Homo sapiens: one gene and its partner. The protein of the gene in region 2 interacts with the protein of the main gene of each other region in a pairwise test. Each region holds a gene or a part of one and is shown on either strand. Other genes may lie near its edges. The genes, in order: NFIX and ZNF614.

The links.
Region 1: the proteins of ZNF614 (region 2) and NFIX interact in binary tests that used the Homo sapiens proteins (3 or more experiments, as listed by UniProt).

What each region holds. Positions count from the first base shown.
Region 1 is NC_000019.10:13,078,878-13,082,690, reverse strand, and holds part of NFIX (nuclear factor 1 X-type), read right to left. Parts: intron 1,012-3,813; coding exon 836-1,011; intron 1-835.
Region 2 is NC_000019.10:52,025,359-52,029,953, forward strand, and holds the start of ZNF614 (zinc finger protein 614), read right to left. Parts: upstream 3,022-4,595; 5' UTR 2,884-3,021; exon of another isoform or gene 1,754-2,883; intron 1,181-1,753; exon of another isoform or gene 1,041-1,180; intron 604-1,040; 5' UTR 388-603; coding exon 373-387; intron 1-372. UniProt on the Homo sapiens protein: May be involved in transcriptional regulation.

The DNA of each region.
Region 1 (3,813 bases), about 39 Mb from region 2:
CGTTGTCCCACTGAAGGGTCATCTCTGGCCCACCACCTCCTGGGATCATTCTTTCGCTGAGCAACCCTGAGTTTCTGTCAGTGACAGAGAAGGGCTCTGGGGGGAGCCAGTGTGTCTCCCAGGGCTGAGGAGCAGCAGGGTTTCACTCTAGAACCAGGACCGTCCTGGGAACCCTTTGTTAAAAGTCCTGCCAGCAGGAGTCTCCGTGGCAGCTATGTGGATCGGGGCTTTCCCTTGACACAGTGCTCCTCACTAGGGATGGTCTTCCCCTCCTGGGCACACTGAAATCTGGAGACTTTTTTTTATTATCAAGACTGGGGAGGAGGAGGTGCTCCTGGCATCTAGCAGGTGGAGGCCAGGGATATTGCTCAACATCCTACAGAGCACTGGATGGTCTCACACAATAGTGAATAAACAGCCCCAAATGTCAACAGTGCTGATACTGGGGAAACCCTGGTCTAGAATCTAGCAAATCCTTGCAGCCCCGAGGTTTAAGAGGAGCGCTGGGAGGTCAGGGCCCAGATCCGGGTTGGATCATCATGAGTTCACTCCTGCTGAGGGGGCAAGGACCATGGGAAAGGCAAGGAGCCTGACTGAGCAAGGGGGCCCAGATGCTGCCCCCACCTCTCCGGACCATGATAGACAAGCCCTGGCATAATACACAGACCCCCGTCCCCAGACCCAGAAAATCGAGGCGTTTGGTACTACCAGCTCCCTGCTGCTCCAGCCCCAGGTGGGCTCCTGGCTTTTGGGCCCTCTCCCTGTGAGCCCTGAGACAGACAGATAGATGTGGAGATGAGGCTGTAGCCGGGCTCCTGGGGCCCTCTGGACTCACCTGTCCGGTGGCCTGGCCCGAGCCATCCGAGCACACAAACTGCACAAACTCCTTCAGTGAGTCCTGCCCGTGGTGGTGGTGGTAGCGGATGGTCGGGTGCGTGAAATACGGGCTCGACTGCTGGATGATGGACGTGGAGGGGAAGTGCAGGGCTGATGCTGTGGCCCGGGGGCTCCCTGCATGCACGTGGGCAGGGAAAAAAGGGCGTCAGGGCCAAGGAGGCAGCCAGTGGGAGGGACAGGAGAGGAGGGGAGCTGCCGGTCAGAGGGTCCTGAGGATCCTGAGCAGGTAAGGCAGCCGCCACAGGCACAAAAGTTAAGGCGGCACAAAAAAGTCAGTCATCAGGATCCATGATGTTTTAATGCAATACAAAAATAATAATAATAATAATAATCAAATAGGCAAACTAGGGTCCAAAGGCCAGCCATTTGTTTTTGTAAATAAAGTTTGATCACAACCAGCGCTGGGAGATTAGGATGAGGCAGATGAGGCAGGGTAGGATCTTGTCTTTATTTTATTTGGCTTTTTAAAAAAGTGTTATTATTATTATTTGAGACAGGGTCTCGCTCTGTCATCCAGACTGGAGTGCAGTGGCACAAACACGGATCACGGCAAGCAATCCTCCTGGGCTCATGCAATCCTCCCACCTCAGCCCCCCAAGTAACCAGCACTACAGGTGCACGCCACCAGGCCTGGTAGATTTTTGCTTTTTTTTTTTTCTAGAGATGAGATTTTGCCATATTGTCCTGGTTAATCTCAAACTCCTGGGCTCAAGTGATCTGCCTGCCTTGGCCTCCCAAAGTGCTGGGATTACAGGCATGAGCCACTGTGCCCAGCCTAAAGAATTTTTTTTTTTGAGACTGAGTCTCGCTCTCTCACCCAGGCTGGAGTGCAGTGGTGCGATCTCAGCTCACTGCAAGCTCTGCCTCCCGGGTTCACGCCATTCTCCTGCCTCAGCCTCCCGAGTAGCTGGGACTACAGGCGCCCACCACCACGCCCGGCTAATTTTTTGTATTTTTAGTAGAGACAGGGTTTCACCGTGTTAGCCAGAATGGTCTCGATCTCCTGACCTTGTGATCCGCCCACCTCAGCCTCCCAAAGTGCTGGGATTACAGGCGTGAGACACCGCGCCCAGCCAGTATCTGTTAAATAGAGACAGGATCTCGCCCTGTCATCCAGGCTGTAGTGCAGTGGCATGATCACAGCTCGCTGCAGCCTCGAACTCCTGGCCTCAAGCAGTCTTCCTGCCTTGGCCTCCCAAAGTACAGGGATTACAAGCATGAGCCACTGTGCCCAGCCTCAACATTTTAAACCATTTTAAACAAAGACATGGCTGAGTGCTGTGGCTCATACCTGTAATCCCAGTGCTTTGGGAGGCCAAGGTGGGAGGATCACTTGATCCAGGAGTTGGAGGTCAGCCTGGGAAACATAACAAGACCCCGTCTCTACAACAAACATTTAAAAATTAGCCAGGGTGGCACACAGGAGGGATCACTTGAGTCTGGGAGTTCAAGGCTTCAGTGAGCTATAATCGTGCCACTGCATTCAGCCTGAGTAATAGAGCAGGAAACTGTCTTTGAAAAAAGAAAAAGAAAAACAAACAAAAAAACTGGTGTTTGCTTACCATACCCTTTTTTTTGCAATAGTTTGGATTTTAAAACATATTCCATTAAAATATTATTTATCTTGATGACTGAGTTTTTGATACTTGCTGACACTCTGCACCTAAGGTGAGTGCCTCACTAGCCCTGCCTTAATTCAGGCCCTGGGTGGGAGACTGGGTGGGGGACAAGAGGAGGCAGAGGGTTCCCTGGGGCTCTGGATGAAGACAAAGCCAGCATCTGCTCAGGATGGCCGTCTGACATATGCACACACATCTCCTGAGTGCGAGCTGGTGTGCACCCAGCCACCGCCACCTAGGCGGTGTTCTCATGTGCTCAGCCTCATCACTCACACACGTGTCCTCACATACGCGTCCTTGCACACGCAATTCCCAACCCAGAGCAGGCCCCAGCTCTTCCTCCTCCCGTCTGTTTCCAATCAGCTCGCTCTTGCTCTCGGTTTCATTAGGGGGCTGAGGAAACTTGGCTTCTCTCTGGAGTTCATAAAAGCTGAGGTGGAGCCGGAGGAGCCAGGCCTGCGCCCTCCTGCTGCCTGTGTAGAGGGCCTGGGCTCCCCACCCCCACCTCGCGGCCACCACACCCTGCCCCAGCACCGGCTGCCTCTGGGCTCCCAGCCAGGAGGCCCCAAGGAGGAAGCCAGGAGGTAAACCTCCTCATTTTCTGTGTCCTACATACGAGCCCAGGAGATGGCAGGCGGACATAGGGCCATATCCAGAAAAAGTCCAGGCCTCTTGCTGCCAGGTGGGTGCCCAGAGAGGGAAGAAGAAAGTGAAGGAGTGACAGGGCTGAGGTCTCAGCTCCCACAGCCTCCTGCCTGATCCTATCTCCTCAGGGCGATCTAGGTGTTCTCATCCTGAGCACCTTCTCAACTGGGACACTGAAGTCAGAGAGCAGCCCCACGGCAGTGGGCAGTTCCTTTTCCTGGGGAGCAGCCCAGGTACCACCTGTCCCCTAGACCCAGCCCTTCCTTTCTAGAAAGCGGCAGGGAGGCCCAGACAAGGTAGCTACTTGCCGCAGGAGCCTGGGCTCCTTAGGAGTACTCTTCTCCATCCAGGCCCCACATCAACCTGGGCTCATGCTGGCAAAAATCCAGAGCCTGGGCTCAGCCAGGAGCTGGGAGAGAGGAGCCGGCAGGAAGGCAGAGCAGAAGGCTGTGCCTTCCCGCTCACAGCTGGCAGGACAAAAGGAGAACTGGGCCAGAGTTGGGGAGGACTCGGGACAGGCTTGTGTTGTATGTAGCACCCATGCACGTGAGGAGTGAGAAGTGGGAGGTTGCTCAGGAGCCAGGTGGGCAGCCCAGGGGCCCGGCCTGGTCCTCGATGAGGTGCTACGTGAAGCAGGGGCCGGCTCCCATGC
Region 2 (4,595 bases):
CACCCAGGTTGGAGTGCGGTGGTGCAAACATGGCTCACTGTAGCCTCGTCCTCCTGAGCTCTAGCAATTCTTCTCCCACCTTAGCCTCCCGAGTAGCTGGGATTACAGGTGTGCACCACCACACCCAGCTAATTTTTGTATTTTTTGTAGAGACGGGGTTTCACCATGTTGCCCAGGCTGGTCTTGAACTCCTGAGCTCAAGCGATCCAGAATCTACTTCTTAAGGCAGAATGAACCCCCACCTCTACTCCCAAAAGCAATGTAAGTTAATTTCTCCCTAGAACACAATTATCCCAGTATATACTTCCTTAAGTTCAACTGACTTCTTCAGGCCACCATAAATCTATCAAAAAATCAAAGGGAAAATATCACCTGGGTCTTGATCATTTTCTTCTGTGCTCAGAAAATAGTGGATAACATGGACTATACGTCTTTGTCTCTTCTGCATTTGCCATGAAGTTTTTGAAGTTTTCCTAGTCAGAAATATTAGTGTCCACTTAAAGTTGTCCCCAGAAATTATGATATCCAAGGCCAGCAACCTCCTTCTTCTTCCTTCATTGCTTCACTTGAGTTATTTTGCTTCTGGGAGCCAGGACCTGAGGACTGATAAACAAAATGGCTTTCAGTGTACATTAACCCTGGGTCCAGACATTGTCACTGCTGCTCTGCACTTACCTTAAATAAAAGACCCTAATATTTCTAACAGTTCCTTTATTTGCTGCCTCAGAGGTTTTCATGGTTCTAAATGTGTGAAATCTATGCCTTTCTTTTGTGAAGTAGAAGTGGCATGACTATTATAGAGAAGGTGGGAAAGCAGAACCAGCACAGCACAATGCCTCAGAGGCAGGTGTCTGGGGAAAAGAAAGAGAGATCAGACTGTTACTGTGTCTATGCAGAAAGAAGTAGACATAAGAGGCTCCATTTTGTTCTGTACTAAGAGAAATTCTTCTGCCTTGAGATGCTGTTAATCTGTAACCCTAGCTCCAACCCTATGCTAGCAGAGACATGTGCTGTGTTGACTCAAGGTTTAATGGATTTAGGGCTGTGCAGGATGTGCTTTGTTAAAAACGTGCTTGAAGGCAGTATGCTTGGTAAAAGTCATCACCATTCTCTAATCTCAACTACCCAGAGACACAATACACTGCGGAAGGCCGCGGGGACCTCTGCCTAGGAAAACCAGGTATTGTCCAAGGTTTCTCCCCATATGATAGCCTGAGATATGGCCTCGTGGGAAGGGAAAGACCTGACCGTCCCCTACCCCGACACCTGTAAAGGGTCTCTGCTGAGGAGGATCAGTAAAAGAGGAAGGCCTCTTTGCGGTTGAGATAAGAGAAAGGCATCTGTCTCCTCCTCGTCCCTGGGAATGGAATGTCTCCGTGTAAAACCCCATTGTCTGTTCTATTTACTGAGATAGGAGAAAACCGCCTTAGGGCTGGAGGTGAGACATGCTGGTGGCAATACTGCTCTTTATTGTACCGAAATGTTTGTGTGCGTGCACATCAAGGCACAGCACGTTTCCTTAAACTTATTTATGACACAGAGACCTTTGTTCACATGTTTTCCTGCTGACCCTCTCCCCACTATTACCTTATTGTCCTGCCACATCCCCCTCTCCGAGGTGGTAGAGATAGTGATCAATAAATACTGAGGGAACTCAGAGACCAGTGCCAGCGTGGGTCCTCCGTATGCTGAGTGCTGGTCTCCTGGGCCCACTTTTCTTTCTCTATACTTTGTCTCTTATTTCTTTTCTCAGTCTCTCATCCCACCTGACAAGAAACACCCACAGGTTGTGGAGGGGTGGCCCCCTTCAAGGTGAATTCTCAGACAGATCAATTTTAGGAAAGAGAACACATGGAAGGCTCCAAGAATGTCTTTAAAAACCACGTGTGCCCATGTACTGGTTCGAAAGTCTCTGTAAGCTCTTTGGGTATACATACCTCGTGTCAAGACCAATGTACTAAGCAAATCACAAGAACTGTCTCATTTCACATTATGCGCTAAAGGAGTAACTTTACCCAAGAGAGCTTTGTCCTTTGCCCACAGTTCCTATGAGGCAAACTCTAAGCCTTTGGAATACGCTGCTTGATAAAACTGTCTTTGGTTATCAGGGCAATTTAAGCCATGCCAAATTGTCTATCCTAATAATGTGATTTACTGTGGGAGACCTTGGACCACGTGGTATTAGTTTGATATCTGGAGGAGCTGGAGATTGAAGTCAGCCTCATAGGCAGTCAATTGTGTGTGTGTGTGTTAACTGATATCCAATAAAACTCTGGACACCAAGGCCTAGGTGAGTGGCAACAATGGTTACAATGGCTGGCAATAATAATATAAGGGTGTATATATAAGAATATGATAATTTAAAAACGTATGAAGCAAAACAGAATGAGAGAGGATTAGACAATTCAACAATAATAATTGAAGACTACATTACCCTACTTGCAATAATAAAGAAAACAAATAGAAACTCAGCAAGGATACCGAAAACTTGAACAACATTATCAACCAACTAGACTTAACGAACATTTAACACTGCACTCAACAGCAGTAAAATAAACATTTTTTTCAAGAGCACATGTTATATTCTTCAGGAAAGATAATATCCCATGTGATAGCCTGAGATAGGGCCTCATGGGAAGGGAAAGACCTGACCGTCCCCCAGCCCAACACCCGTAAAGGGTGACTCACAAGGGCCCCAGACCCAGACAGAGTCGGACTCGTCGCTGATTTCCTCAGACTCTTCATCCCTACAGCCAAAGGACCCGTCATTAACGCCCCGCTTCCTCAGCGACTGCGTTCAAATACAGCCCCAATCAGGACGCTCCACGCACCATCGGTACACAGACCCACAGGCCGCGAGTCCATGCCCAGAACTCGACTCACCCGAGCCCGAACCTCTCCAGACACCACTGGCAGCGACAAAACGCCGCATCCACGTCCGAAAACGCTTCCTATTCAGACGCGCTCCTGCGCGGACTCCGGGAAGCTGAGCGGTAAAGACCGTGAAGCGAGGCGAGGACCACGGAGCCTGCCCGGGATCGCGAGTTCAGACTGCGGGCGCCGCTCTATGAGGTCACAGGGCTGCGCCCATCGCAGCGTTTCTGACAGGAGCGGCCATAATGGCTGTGGGAATCACTCTTAGTCACCTCAGTGCCTTTCTCTCTTCGTTGCAAGGGACACTCAAGAGTCGGGTGCCCAGCCAAGGCCAACACGGCGCAGTGGCATTCTATTCAGCCTGCTGTGGAAAAAAGATGGCGGCGCCCTTTGTGCCCATTATAGCTGAGAGTGGAGCCTTAGCTGGAGCACCATGGGCACGGCCATCTTAGAGGAAGGCAGCAGCCGTACGGCAGAGAAGATGCTCATATCCAGGACAATTTGGAAAAATAAACAAGGTTTGAAGAAGTCACGGTGCTGGCCAGGAAGCGGTCACAGAGTTGCCAAAACCAGTGGTCACTGAAAGTGTTAGATTTGGGGATAGGGCGGGGGTTCTGGGCTGGGTAAGGCTTTTGTGGGTTAGATTAGACTCTGACTGAATGGACGAAGCCGAGAACAGGAGTGATGCTCCATTAAATGCTAATACCCACATGGGGCTTGCTATTAAAACCACTGCCAGTGGGGAAGGGGATGAGGAGGTGAAGGTGCAACTGTGTTAATATCTACATGTTTCCTTCCAGAAGTAAAGGAAGATGACAGTGGGGCACTTAAGAATATGAAATTATTAGAATGCGATCATCCTACTTTGCAATGTTTCCAGATTTTTTAAAAAGTCACACTTAAAAAATATTAGTTCTATTTTTGCAGATGTTGGCGTTGTAACTGTAGAAGATTTAAGTAAATATTGTATTTTTGGAAGGCAACCTAGAGCCAATTTAATTTTTTCGTTTTCTTTGACACAGCAATTCTAAAAGCTATCTAGGCAAATCTGTCTTAATATTAACCACAACTTTTGTAATTTACAAAAAAAGGGAATTACAATGAGAGATGAATACTTTGGTAAATTATGGAACATCTGCTGAACTGTAAGAGTATATATCAATTTAAAAGAATATGCTACAATTGTTTTATAAAAAAGAAAACTTTGTCAGAGGACAAAAAAATGATCTGCAGGATAGTATATATTTTATGGTCTTGTTATTGGAAGAAATCATAAACATCTTTTGGAAAATTGTGATTGGTTAAACAAGACATTTAGTTTGAATTAATATTGTTTGTGTTCATAGGTAGAGAATGCCATGTTTTTACTTGAAAAATATTCCCAATTTATACTTAATTTTACTATCTTTGTACCATAATCATGAATATATTATAAAACATGTTGATCTTAGAAAATAGGTATGATGATGTATAATAAGTTCATGGCATGATAAATGCAAAATAGGCTGTTTTCTTTCAGAAAATAAATATGCTCATGCATTTGAAAAATTCTGGAGAATATACTAACAATATTTGACTGTTCCGTACAATTATGGTGACTTAAAATTTCTTCATTTTACTTACGTTTTGTAATTTCTAGAGAATAAGAATTTCATGTTCGTATTTCTTGAGTGTTATAACATATTCCATCCAGGATTAAATTTCAGCCCCGTTCATCTGGA